2 linked regions of the Homo sapiens genome follow. Each later gene encodes a partner of the first gene's protein in a complex. Links are inferred from orthologs where the notes say so. Each region holds a gene or a part of one and is shown in the gene's direction. Other genes may lie near its edges.

Evidence for each region. The genes of interacting proteins can lie anywhere in the genome.
Region 2: the proteins of AP2A2 (region 1) and EPS15 are in contact, whole or in part, in a crystal structure (PDB 1KYU), measured with the Mus musculus proteins. The link is inferred for Homo sapiens from one-to-one orthologs. Residues at the interface, in XP_006536218.1 of Mus musculus: Phe442, Phe443, Trp446, Lys447, Asp487, Pro488, Val494, Arg511; in NP_031969.1 of Mus musculus: Asp629, Pro630, Phe631, Lys632.

Annotation. Positions count from the first base shown.
Region 1 is NC_000011.10:991,865-998,890, forward strand, and holds part of AP2A2 (AP-2 complex subunit alpha-2), read left to right. Parts: intron 1-638; coding exon 639-821; intron 822-1,419; coding exon 1,420-1,517; intron 1,518-1,889; coding exon 1,890-2,121; intron 2,122-2,207; coding exon 2,208-2,381; intron 2,382-4,237; coding exon of another isoform or gene 4,238-4,279; exon of another isoform or gene 4,280-4,329; intron 4,330-7,026. UniProt on the Homo sapiens protein: Component of the adaptor protein complex 2 (AP-2). Adaptor protein complexes function in protein transport via transport vesicles in different membrane traffic pathways.
Region 2 is NC_000001.11:51,509,241-51,516,266, reverse strand, and holds part of EPS15 (epidermal growth factor receptor substrate 15), read left to right. Parts: intron 1-7,026. UniProt on the Homo sapiens protein: Involved in cell growth regulation. May be involved in the regulation of mitogenic signals and control of cell proliferation. Involved in the internalization of ligand-inducible receptors of the receptor tyrosine kinase (RTK) type, in particular EGFR.

The DNA of each region.
Region 1 (7,026 bases):
AAGGGGGCTTGGTTCCAGGCGAGGTGACTTTGGGGAGATGAGTTTGGTGTTGTACAGCCTGGCAGAGCTCCATGTGGGTGGCTGCCACGTGGGTGTGGGCTGGGCAGGTGCCTCCGGGGGGCACCCGTGAGAGTGAGCCAGAGAGGGGAAGAAGGGGAACCCCCAGGTGAGGCTCGCAGGAAAGACTGGCCAGAGCCGGAAGAAACCAGCAGAGAAGTGGCCGCCGGGAGCCCAGGGTGGCGCAGTCACTGGCCGCCGGGAGCCCAGGGTGGCGCAGTCAGAGGTCAGAGGAGTGCTGCCACCGGGAGCCTAGGGTGATGAGGTCAGAGGAGTGCTGCCGCCAGGTGCTGGGGCTTTGGGAGAGAAGGGCCCAGGTGGGAGGTGGCCTGGCTGTGGCCGTGGCCTTCTGTGCACTGGTCTCCGCCTCTTCCTGGCTTTCTTTGCTTAAGTCAGGGCATCTTAAACTTTCTGGGCTCGTGGGCTTTTTTGAGAATCGAGTTCAAGCTTCCTCCATGTCCCAAACTTTTGTAGACACATTGAGGTGCTTCTGAAACTCTCACTTTGACTTTGGACGACAGTTTGGTCTTGGGATTGCCATGGCCTGCAGGTGCCGGCCCTCAGCAGCCTGTCCCCCACAGGTGCTGAAGGTCGCCATCCTGGCTGAGAAGTACGCGGTGGACTACACCTGGTATGTGGATACCATCTTGAACTTGATCCGAATTGCTGGTGATTACGTGAGTGAAGAGGTGTGGTACCGAGTCATTCAGATCGTCATCAACCGGGACGACGTGCAGGGCTACGCGGCCAAGACTGTGTTCGAGGTATGGCCCGCAGGATGGCAGGAAGGATGGGGTGGAGGGCAGTTGCAGAAGGTGAGCAGTGAGTGGTTCCAGCCTGCCTGCGTGGAGGTGCCGAGGGCCGTTGCTGACCCCTCTTGCCCCTCAGCTCTTCCCTGAGGCTCTAGCTCCTCCACTGTTGGTGCCCCTTGCTGAGTCCCAGTTTCTTCTCACCCTAACTCTCAAACTTCTGGCTCTCTGGGGGCCACCTGAGAAAGCCGGCCTCTGTGTGTGTGAGAGCATGCTGGGGCATGCCGTGGTGGGGCCTGCCCTGTCCGTCGGAGAGGGTTAGGCCACCGGCAAGGGGTGTGCCATGAGGACGCTGGCAGAACCTCCCCAGCCAGAGCCTGTTGTGGATGCTGCAGCTCCCTCCAGGGCAGGTCAGCGTGTGGCAGCCTTGGGTTCCTTGCTGCTGACACAGGTACTGAGGGTGCTGAGGAAGGCAGGGATGGGCACTTGGACTGGGGTCTCCAGGAAGCTGAGGGGCTGGTGCTGGTGTAGGGTGCACCGCGCCAGGACGTGCCCGCCTCGCCTTAACTCTGGCACCTGGCTGCCACCCCGGCTCATTGTTTGTGCTTCGCAGGCTCTTCAGGCTCCCGCGTGCCACGAGAACCTGGTCAAAGTGGGCGGCTACATCCTGGGGGAGTTTGGAAACTTGATAGCTGGAGACCCGAGATCCAGGTGAGAGGCCCTTTGCGAGTCGGGGCTGTGTGCGCTCCGGCGGGCCTCTCGGTGGTCGGTGGCAAGAGGCGAGGCACCAGCTGGCCCTGCCGTGAGGCCTCGCAGAGCCGCTTCTGCTCCCCATCGGCGTCTTTTTGTTTTCCTTCAGTTGATAGAAAAAGCAGGGATTCTAGTAGAAAATGGAGACGTGGGGTTGATGGCTGACTTAGTGAAAGGGGCGTCTTTGCGGTGGGATCTGGAGCTGGAAGAGGGTCCCGACCAGCGGCCTCTGGTGCAGGCCAGGGGGTCTCGCCGCCGTCCCCCCCCCGCGGGGGCGTGCTGCAGCCTGCGAGGGGACGACGGTGTCCCTGTGTTGTGCCTCCCCGTCCCCAGCCCGCTGATCCAGTTCCACCTGCTGCACTCCAAGTTCCACCTGTGCAGCGTCCCCACCCGCGCGCTGCTCCTGTCCACCTACATCAAGTTCGTGAACCTCTTCCCGGAGGTGAAGCCCACCATCCAGGACGTGCTGCGCAGCGACAGCCAGCTCAGGAACGCAGACGTGGAGCTGCAGCAGCGTGCTGTGGAGTACCTGCGGCTCAGCACCGTGGCCAGCACCGACATTCTGGTAGGAGGCCCCCGCCCTTCGGGCTGGCTTGGCTGAGGGTTGGAGGCCAGGAGCTCTGACCAGTCCCACCCTGTGTTCTTTCCAAGGCGACCGTGCTGGAGGAGATGCCCCCATTCCCGGAGCGGGAGTCCTCCATCTTGGCAAAGCTCAAGAAGAAGAAGGGCCCCAGCACGGTGACAGACCTGGAGGACACCAAGCGGGACAGGAGTGTGGACGTGAACGGGGGTCCTGAGCCTGCCCCAGCCAGTACCAGCGCCGTGGTGGGTCCCTCACCTACTGTGCACCCAGACCTGTCAGGGCCTCACCCCCAAGACTTGGGACCAGCAGAGCATTTGCCTGTCAGGGAGGAGCATGTACTGAGAACCCAGGCTCTGGCTGTGGCTCTGGACACCCCGCTGTCCTGTCCTGGGGGCCACTGTCCCTGCTGGACACGCTGCTGTCCTGTCCTGGGGGCCACTGTCCCTGCTGGACGCCACGCTGTCCTGTCCCGGGGGCCACTGTCCCTGCTGGACGCCCCGCTGTCTGTCCCGGGGGCCACTGTCCCTGCTGGACGCCCCCCTGGCCTGTCCCGGGGGCCACTGTCCCTGCTGGACGCCCCGTTGTCCTGTCCCGGGGGCCACTGTCCCTGCTGCACACCCTGCTGGCCTGTCCCGGGGGCCACTGTCCCTGCTGGATGCCCCCCTGGCCTGTCCCGGGGGCCACTGTCCCTGCTGGACGCCCCGTTGTCCTGTCCCGGGGGCCACTGTCCCTGCTGGACGCCCCCCTGGCCTGTCCCGGGGGCCACTGTCCCTGCTGCACACCCTGCTGGCCTGTCCCGGGGGCCACTGTCCCTGCTGGACGCCCCCCTGGCCTGTCCCGGGGGCCACTGTCCCTGCTGCACACCCTGCTGGCCTGTCCCGGGGGCCACTGTCCCTGCTGGACGCCCCCCTGGCCTGTCCTGGGGGCCACTGTCCCTGCTGCACACCCCGCTGGCTTGTCCCGGGGGCCACTGTCCCTGCTGGACGCCCCTCTGGCCTGTCCCGGGGGCCACTGTCCCTGCTGCACACCCCGCTGTCCTCTCCCGGGGGCCACTGTGCCTGCTGGGCAAGGCACTTCCTTCAGACCGTCGTCTTGTCCAGCTCAGCTCACACATCCTCTGTGGTGCCTTGTTTTAGGGGAAGTGGCCGTCCCCTCTCCTACAGGACTGCCTCACCCAGGCAGCTGTCCTCACATGCTTTGTTGATTTAGAGAGGACCTGTCCTGCCCTGCTCTTCGAGGTTTTATGTAGTGAGTTGGGTTAGGTCTGGTTTTCCTTGTATGTGTGATGCGATGAGAATAATCCTGTAACAGAATGTGTCCTGTGGTATTTGTCAGGTGAGAAGTGTCGTTTTGAGAGTTGCGTTTTTGCTTGGCTCTGCTTGCCAGCTGTTCCCCTCTGCACTGTCAGGGAGGGCTCCTGTCGGGGTCAGGCGGGCTTTCTGTTTGTCCAGTTAGAGGACCTGTCTCTCCAGGACGCAGGTCCAGTGGTGGCAACCAGTGCTGCTACCCAGTATCGGCAGGGCTTTGTGGGGTGAGCTCCTGTGGTGGTGCCTGCCCTGGCAGTGTGCTGGTTGGGAGGGTGCTCATGTCGGAGTCCTGGCACTCCTTGGCGGGGACCTGCTTATGTGCCCCGGCTGACCATGTGTCCTGCCCCTCTGGCCGACAGTGCAGGGCCTGCCATGGGGCTGGTATCCAGGCTGAGCCTGACATCTCAATGAGCAGTCTTCCCTCCCCCTCTTCCTCCCTCTCCCCTCCCTCCACCTAGTGTCCTCTGTGCAGCCCCTGTCCCCCCGTGCCCTCTCTCTGTGTTGTTTGTGGCACGCTGCTGTGCCCGCCATCTGGAGGCTTGAATTGCCTGTGAGCTCATCCTGGAGTGAATGAAATGAATGAAAGATGTGACTCTTTCTCCCAAGGTGGGCGTCTTCCCTTCACGCCTGAGCACCTTCATGCTTATGTTTCTCATGTGCTCTGTAGAGCTGGTGACCTGCTTTTGACCCTGTCTCCTCCCGTGGGACGTCACTAGCCAGGCGCCTAGTGCAGCAGGCCTCTGTCACTCCTCTAATCCATCTCTCCCTCTCCTTTGGACATCTTGACATAGGTTTCTGGAGGCAGAAACTTGCTTGTGGAGATTTGTCTGTGAGCTGCCGGAGCAGGGGCCTTCCCGTGGGTGCTGGGCCGGCAGCGGCTCCGCCCTGCAGAGAGGAGGACGCGGCCCCAGTTGGGTGAGGAGGCGAGGGCAGGATGACGTGATCCAGGGGAGGCTGGTGTGCAGGGATTCCTGGAGGCCGGCTTTCAGCAAGGGCACTGTGAAGTCTTCCACGGAAACCTGGGATTGCCTGTTGGAAGCTGGGAAGGCACCAGGTGCTCTCGCTCCCCTCCAGCTGCTTTGACGTTAAGAGGAACTCGCTGAGGGAGCATGGAAAGGGGCTGTAGGATTGTCTTCAGTCTCTCTTTGGTTCTTATTTGATGTTTCTTTTTAATGTGGGTCCTGAGAAGTGAGGTGTGCCCATACCCCAGGCCTTTGATCACACCCAGGTTTGTCCGGCTAGGCTCAGGGTGGACTTTGGAGGGCCTGGCCTTGACTGTGTGGCTTAGGGATCAGATGGAAGCTTCTGGACCCTGGGAGTGAGAGCAGTGTGCTGCCCTCTGAAAAGGAGGATGAGGGTCCAGTGAGGTTCAGCATTTCTGTAAGGTGCCTTCTTGGAGGGAGTTCCCCCTTCAGGGCTCATTCAGTGGATTTTCTGAGTGTGGCTTCACTCCTGATGGTCAGTGGTGCCTGGCGGGTGGGTTCCTTAGGGAGGTGTCTGTGGCCGAGGCACGCAGCTCTGTTCTGAGCTGAGAGCTGTGGTGTGTGGGCACCTCCGTCCTGACTGAGAGCTGTGGTGTGTGGGCGCCTCCGTCCTGACCGAGAGCTGTGGTGTGTGGGCCCCTCTGTTCTGACCGAGAGCTATGGTGTGTGGGTGTCATTGCTATCCTGTGCTTTCCAATCTGTTCCCATTGCTCACGGGAGCCCCAGTGAGAGGCCCCTCCCTATGGGGAGACACTCCTGGCGAAGTTTTCTTGCTCAGGGTCTTCTGTATGGGCCGTGAAGGGGCCTCAGGGTGGCATCAGCACATGTGCCTTTCCCACGAGAGACAGTGGCTTTATCTTGGTGTCACATTGGCCAAAATGTCTTTTATTTAACATCATAGATGAGGCCAGGACATTTTACTTCTTCCGAGCATCCTCTTTCTGCACACAGCTCCTTGGGGGAGGCTGTGGTGTGCGTGTCCCCGGGTGTGCTGGGGAGCACAGGGGTGTGGGGATCAGAGGCTGCCTGGCTTCACATGCAGGAGCCTGGGGCCCTTGTAGGCAAAACCTTCACCCCTCAAGTTGTCCTGCTATTGGAGGGAGGAGGTGAACTGGTGTGGCCCAGGAGCCAGGCCTGCTCCCTGAGGAGGGTCTCCCAGGCCTGAGAGGATAAGGAAGATGAAGAACCTGAAGTGGGTGTTAGGACCCTACTGTCCTGGGGCCTTGCATCTGGCCTCGCTGTTACAATCTGTGGTAACGTTTCAGGTACAAATGCCTTTACTAGGGCAAAGGGCTTTCCTACTTTAGAAAGCAGTTAAAAGCCATAGATGGCTGGGCATGGTGGCTCACACCTGTAATCCCAGCGCTTTGGGAGGCTGAGGTGGGCGGATCACTTGAGGTCAGGAGTTTGAGACCAGCCTGGCCAACATGGTGAAACCCCGTCTCTTCTAAAAATACAAAAATTAGCCAGGTGTGGTGGTGTGTGCCTGTAATCCCAGCTGCTCGGGAAGCTGAGGCAGGAGAATTGCTTGAACCCAGAAGGCGGAGGTTGCAGTGAGCTGAGATTGCACCACTGCACTCCAGCCTGGGTAACAGAGTGAGACTCGGTCTCAAAAAAATAAAATAAAATAAAATAAAAGCCATAGATGTATTTGAATCAGTGCAGGAACCAGGGTAACATCTGTGATGAGATGCAGAGGAGAAACTGTCTCCATTTGGGCTGCAGGTGCATGGCCATGGCCAAGGCCGATGGCTTCCCACGCAGCTCACAGCTTTGTCAGGCTGTGGAGGCCACAGTGTTGGCGGGCGCTGTCCCCGGCGTAGGGAGCAAAGCGCCGCCTTCAGATGGTCTCATCGAGACACGCCTTGGATATTTTTGGGACTCTTCTCTGCCAGCTCCTCTGTGACCTCCCACCCTTGGAGCACATGAGACCCGTGTCGTCTTCTCTTGCAGAGGTGCTCCGTCACAAGAGCAGAGCCTGGGAGCCTGCCCCGTTTCTGACTGCCCCCCAATCCCCATTCTGACTCTCACCCGCCCCCATTCTGACCCCCCGCCCCCATTCTGACCTGCACCTTTTTTGCATAACACACTTTGTGATGCCTCATTTATCTTTGAGTAAAATTCATATATCACAAACCCACACATGTAGTTTTTTTGAAAGTACAGTGTGACACCTTAACTTTGCATTAATGTAAAATGGCATTCAGGTGGAGTCTCAGATAATTACAAACTAATTTTTTACCTTCTTAGATGTCCAGTGGAACATTCTAAAGTTACTCAAGACGAATCTTCAAGTTAGGGTGTCTTGTGTCTCTGTTTTTTGCCTGTGAAATGCCAATATCCTTGTGATAGTCAGAGCCCTCCACATCTCCAGAACGCTCTTAGCTGGGTGGGGGGTTTCTCCACCAAGAGCCCCTGGTGTATAGTGTCAAAGTGTGAGTGTTGCCAGGCTGTAGTTCAGTGGTACGATCTTGGCTCACTGCAATCTCCGCCTCCTGGTTTCAGTTCTCCTGCCTCCACCTCCTGAGTAGCTGGGATTACAGGCGTGTGCCACCACACCCAGCTAATTTTTGTATTTTTAGTAGAGACGGGGTTTC
Region 2 (7,026 bases), on another chromosome or scaffold:
GAGTTTGAATTAGCTGATCTAAGGACCTTTCCAACTTTTAAGATCCTGTTTTATAGACAGTGTTCTATGATTTATAGACCTAGTGGACTTTCTCTGGGTTCTTTAGTGCTTTACAGCCTTAAATGTTTTCTAATTCAGTTGTCTTTACTAGGTGTTCTGTTTACTTCTTGTCAATGAGAAGTAAAACCTGAGGGAGAAAGATCTTGATTTTTGCTTCTGTTGGTAGATTAGAAAAAAAGCATGTAATACTTAAAAAAAAAAAGTTTCCAATAGTCAGTTTTACTCCCTAACGCCCATATCCCTAATAATAATAATACTGTTAACTTCCCTTTGGGAATTACTATATGCCAGGAATTTTACTACACTTAGAATCTAACGATATGTTTTACAAATTAGAGAAGCTAGTAAGTAAGCTAGTAAGTGGTGAATCTACGATTTGAACCAAGGTCTGTAGGACTTCAAAAGCTATTTCACTGTTCTTCTCTATGTACTAGATGCTTGGCCTATCCAACGCTCCCTTACATTTTTTGTTCTTTTTTTTCGGCATATGCCATTGTCTTAAGTAGTAAGCCTCTTGAGGATATAAGCCATGGTTTTTGCCTCTGAATCTCTAGTGCCTTTGATAATATCTTGGATGATACAATTGTGTGTTCAAAGTTAGTGCTATTGATGATAAAGGTTTTATTTTACTGAGATAGGATTTGAATATTTAAAATAGTCTTTTAGCAATTCAGCTTTATACTGGTTTTCTTGCTTTAGTTTAGCAAGAATTTTTTTTTTTTTTTGTTTTGTTTTGAGACAGGATCACACTCTGTCACCCATGTTGGAGTACAGTGGCATGATCAGGCTCACTGCATCCTCAACCTTGTGGGCTCAAGGGATCCTCCCATTTCAGCCTCCTGAGTAGCTGGGACTACAAGTGTGCATCGCCATGCCCAGCTAATTTTTAAAATTTTTTTGTAGAGACAGGGACTCACTCACTATGTTGTCAGATTCTTTTTTTTTTTTAAAGTAATAAAAAAGCCCTTAAGTAGGGACTTAATTTTAAAAATCCTAGTATATAAATGGTATAACAACAGTTCTAATGCTTTTTTTGTTAAATTACAAGAGTGATATAACTGTATTACAGAAAACTTGGAAATTAGAGGAAAACATCTCCCATAATTTCACAGTTTGTAGTGTTTATTTTCAGTTTCATTTTTTAAACAAGTACGCAGTACAAGTGCTAATAAACATATCATCTTAGTAGTCTGGTTTAACAATTATGACAGTAAATACAGGTTAGTTTGAAAATGACAACATGTTCTCAGAAGCAGAAAAGTGATATTGTTCTCAACATGACAGATATTTGAGTTCCTACAATGGGAAAGGCACATTAATGATGTTTTTCTTTATTGCCTATAATTATGGTTCGATATACTCAGGAAATCTCTTGAGAGAGATATCTAACCCTTCTCAAAGATGGCTTGAAATGTTCAGCACTTGGGAGAGGTTGTCATAGTTAAAATTAATTAGGAACAAGTTCATCCAATAGCAAGTCTCTCAGGAATAATCTAAGAGTGCATTCCTTTGTTTTCACTCTATTTGCAGACAGAATGCTAGTAACAGACTAACGTGTAATAGAAAAAGATTGAGTATCATTAGCAACGAATCATAGTTCAGAATCTCTGCAATCTCTAATAGTGTGATTTTAAAGGCCTAATCTAAGATATTTTACTTGTTCTTTAGGGAATTACAAAAAGCACTTTATATACTTGTTTGTGAGTTTGGGGCTTAATAAAATTGGGAGCAGAAAAGATAACTATTGGGTACTGGGCTTAATACCTATGACACAAGTCCACTGATGTAATAAACCTTCACATGTACCCTTGAACCTAAAATAAAAGTTTTTAAAAAAAAAATCAGTACTCTGGAAACCAAAACCAAGTAAATGGCCTGAGAGAGATCTGGTTAGTTGGAGAACTGGTAGAAATAATAAACGAAAAGTTACTCCAGGCAGAGTTCATTAGGCAAATTCATATGCTGGAGTTTCATTTTTAAAGCAGTTGAATCAACAAGGTATGCCTTCATTAATTATATTTATTAGGTGTTTTTAATAATCTGAGGAATCTTGTAAATTGAATGCTGTATTACAGTAAAGTGAACTTTTTTTATTTAGACAAATGATCTAACCCAGTTAAGCATGCGTAGAAGAAAGCCTGGAAGAAAAAAAACACTAAAATTTTATAGTAGCATGGTTGTAGTTTTTATCTACCTTGTTTTCAACAGTGAGAATGTATTCCTTCTGTAATCAACTGATTTAGCTTTTCTCTATGGCATTTTTGAGAATTTATTCATTTAAATTGAATACACAATAACTACGTGTAAAGTAAAGCTTTGTGTTCTAAGATTGTGTCTACACTTAGTTTTCATCCTAAACATTTAGAGAAATTGATTAGAGGAATGATAATAATTATATTAATTGATTTGGACAATTCAGTTAGAGGACTAATTTATAATTTTTTGTGCTGCTTTATAACTTAACAAAGCGTAACCTATGAACTAAGCTATTATTATCATCATTTCAAATTGGAGGATACTGAGGCTCAGAATTTGGGACTTAGGTTTTATAGTTAGTAAATTAAAAAACCAATATAAATTCATGGTTAAAAAAATTCATACAATGCTAGTGAAGTCTTCTTTCTGCTTTAGGCCCTCATTTGCTTTCCCAGAGGCAGCCATTCTTGCCAGTTTCTTGTGTGAATTTCCAGTAATAGTCTGTGTATATGCGAATAAATATATATGTATACTGTATATGTATATTCTTTTGTGTAAGCTGTTTATTGTTTCACAGTTTGTTGTTATATTATTTTTAGCTTAACTGATTTAGGAGATTGCTCTATAACATCACATATAGATCTCCCTTATTGTTTTCAAAACCTCAGGGTATTTCTATATGTGAACTTACTGTTATTTATTTTACTGGCCACCTAATGCTGGACATTTATTTTGTTTTCAATCTTTTGTTACAACTATGCTGCAGTGGATACTCTTTTACATGTTTTTGTGCACATGTGTGAGCATATGGATTAATTTCTAGTAGGTGTAATTTTTGGGCCAGAGGATACTTTTAATCTGCATAGATACTGCTAATTTGGGGTAGGCATAGTGGCTCAGGCCTATAATTCCAGTGCTTTGGGAGGCTGAGGCGGAAGGATTGATTGAAGCCAAGAGTTCAAGGCCTGGGTAACATAGTGAAATCCATCTGGGACAAAAAAAAAATTTTTTTTAATTAGCTGGGCATGGTGGTGTGTGCCCGTAGTCCTAGCAGGCTACAGGTGAGCTATGATTAGCAGGTTACAGTGAGCTATAATTGCACCACTGCACTCCAGCCTAGGTGACAGAGCTAAGACCCTGTCTCCAAAAAAAAAAAAAAAAAAAAAAGATATTGCTCATTTACATTCAGAAACACTGTAGCAGCACACATGTTTGAGAGTGTCATTTCCTCCACAGCTTGATCAACATGTATATTATTGTCAGTCCAGTAATCAGAAAGATTTCAAACAATTTCATTGTTTTAGTTTGTTATTTCTTTATGGGTAAGGCTGAACTTATTTTTTTTTCCTTTGAAACCATTTGTATTTCTTTTTTTATAAACTGCTTTAGTCTTTTACCTGTTCTCTTGATGGGCTGTTTGTCTTCTTTCTCACTGATTTGTAAGAACTCTTCTTATATTTAGGAAATTTGCCCTTCTTTGCAAAATCCTTTGCAAAATTTTTTTCTCTGAATTTTTTTTTGTTTTTGGCATTTTTTGATTATGTAGAAATATTTGTTTTATATGTTTAATTTGTCAGTCTTTTCTCTTAGAGCTTCTGCAAAATCTAGATTTTTAAACTTCAGGAGCAGAGGCAGACTAATATAACTGCAAGAGCACACCTGTTCTGCCCCTGAGTAGTTCTGTGATCTTGGGCAAATTACTTAACCTCTTAAGTGCACTCATTTGCATATTAGAAATAAACTACTGAGACTTCTTGGGTATTATTGAGACCTCTTAAGCATGTTGTGATTACAAAATGAACTGGTGACTTATTTTCTTTAGCTACTCCTGTAGTTTCCCAATTTGTTAAAAGCTGGCCTTGTACCCTGCCTCATATACTCTGCTTTCCTATCACATAAATGTGAACTTCTGAATATTTTGTGCAAAAGTAGGATAGAAATGAGGTAGAAGAAACTCATTTTTGTGATATAAATAAGGCTTTCAAATGAATCAGAGGTGCAATTAAAAAATAAAAGTTGGGCTCTTTTTAAAACTTGTTTTTATGTGGTAAAAATATACAAAGAAAAGTAAGCCTCACTTCCTCCCTCCTTTAAACTGGGGATTATTACAATGGGAATATAACAGTACCAGGAGTTTTTCATCTGAAATAATCAAACTGCTTATTCCTTACTAAATCTGCAATAAGAATACAAATTTGACCAAGAATGCTAGGATAAGAACATATTTTTTGGAGGAAGACGTTTATATTACAGTACTTTATAGTTTTTTAGATCATGGTTTCTCAGCCTTGGCACTTTGAGATTTTGGGCTGGAGAATTTCTTGTTGTGGGAGGCTGTTCTGTGCATTGTAGGGTGTTTTGCAGCATCCTTATCCATTAGACGTAACACCTTCACCAGTTGCAGCAATCAGAAATATCTCCAGACACTGACAAATATTTCCTAGAGGATTAAATTGCCTCTGGTTTAGAATCACTGGTTTATTTATTTATTTTTATTTTAAAGTTTTAGTACTTTTGAGAGAGAGTCTCGCTCTGTCGTCCAGGCTGGAGTGCAGTGGTGTGATCTTGGCTCACTGCAACCTCCACCCCTGGGTTCAAGCAATTCTCGTGCCTCAGCCTCCCGAGTAGCTGGGATTACAGGCGTGCATCACCACGCCTGGCTAATTTTTTTTGTATTTTTAGTACAGATGGATTTCACCATGTTTTCCAGGCTGGTCTCTATCTCCCGACCTCAAGTGATCCTCCTGCCTTGGCCTCCCAAAGTATTGAGATTATAGTGTGAGCCACTGCGCCCGGCCAAATCACTGGTTTAGATATATACTTATTTATTTATTATTATTTTTTGAGGCGGAGGTCTGGCTCTGTCGCTCAGGCTGGAGTGCAGTGGTGTGATCTCGGCTCACTGTAACCTCTGCCTCCCGAGTTCAAATGATTCTCCTGCCTCAGCCTCCCAAGTAGCTGGGATTATAGGCGCCCACCGCCACACCTGGCTAATTTTTGTGTTTTTAGTAGAGACGGGGTTTCACCATGTTGGCCAGGCTGGTCTCGAACTCCTGACCTCAGGTGATCCTCCCTCCTCAGCCTCCCAAATTGCTTGGGATTACAGGCGTGAGCCATCGTGCCCGGCCTAGATACATACTTTCTGTGGTCCATTAGGACATACAAGATATACTTTCTAGGGGTGAGGACAGGGGAAAGAGTTTATCTTCATATTTTTATTCTTAAGCCTGCCATGAGCCATGATTGACTCCTTGTGCATAAATATTGAGCTTAAAAAACTTAAATGAGAAGGCAACCTGAAATTGTGAACTTAATTTTATGTGTGATTTCTGTGCCTTTTTTAGTGTGATCTCCTCCCTCTTCCGGCTCCACTGTAGTTTGGAAACTTAGTGTGGTCTTCTTTTAGTTGTGGAACAGTTCTATCTAGTGGGCTAAGTATCAATACAGAGATCCTGGAAGGAAAACATTCTTATGCCACTGTTGAGAAGGAAGAGGACTGATGCTTCTAGAACACCTAATAAATACTAAATACTTTTAGATGATCTACATACATTATTTCACTTAATCTTCATAGCCTTTCTACAAGTAGGCATTAATCTTCTGTATTACTTGCTCACGGTTGTATTTTAAGTGGGAGAGTTGAGACTTGAACCCAGGCACATCTGTTCTCCAAGTACATTTGCTATGCTGCTTCCTATAGTCATTGATGATATTTCAGTCAAATTTTGGGATAAGAATGAACATTCATGTGATCTTACATTCCTCTATTGTTATGTAAAAGAAATTATCCAGTGGTGTGTGTGTGCGTGTGTTTGTGTGTATTGGGGAGGAGGTCAATAGTGGGATAATAACAATAATACTTACTGAGCACACTTACGTGTCATGTGCTATTTTCAATAATCTTTACAACCTGATGAACCTTTCAGTATTCTTTACAACTTGGTAATCCTTATATCCCTGTTTTACAAAAACAAAACAAAATAAAAAACTGGGACACAGAGGTGAAGTAATTTGTTCAAGGTCAAACTGCTGCTAAGTGGTAGAGCCAGAATTGTAACCCAGTAGTCTAAGCAACTCGGATATTGATTGAATGAGTCTGCATTTTTAAGGGCAAAATGGCTCTGACAGAGCTTATTGTGGTACCATTCCTTGGTTATAGCTGAACATATGTTGTAGGCTACTACATCTTCCTATGTGAAAATCAACTTATCATTGCATACACCACATCTCTAGAAAGTGATTGTTGCACGAAGTTATAGTGGAAAGTTTTTGTAGACATAGTAGAAGGTAGTTTTTCATTTTGCAACCTCCAGATTTATTGCTCATGAAAATCTAAGCTTGTCTAGGTTAGTGTACATCATACCAATATTTACTTTTAAGCTAATATTCTCTCAGACATGGTTATTTGGACTTGGAGTTTCTACAGTATTGTATTGCTAAAGATAAAATGTATCAGAGACTCCCTATAAAATAGACTTTTATTGACTAAAACCTGGAACCATTAGCTGTAATGATTTCTGATCCTCAGATGAACATTTTTGAGAACTAGCATAAAATAATGAGAGAGATCTTGGGCTCTGAAGTTAGAATGTCTTAGGTAAATTGATAGATTTTAGTTATATGAGCCATTAATTTTTATGAAATGTTGCACTTAATTAGAATTTTGATGGATCATTTATACTAAGGATTATTGATAACTTCATTCCATCTTTTGTTCTGTAGGTACAACATAGATATAGCATTATGCATATATAAAAAATATGAAATTAT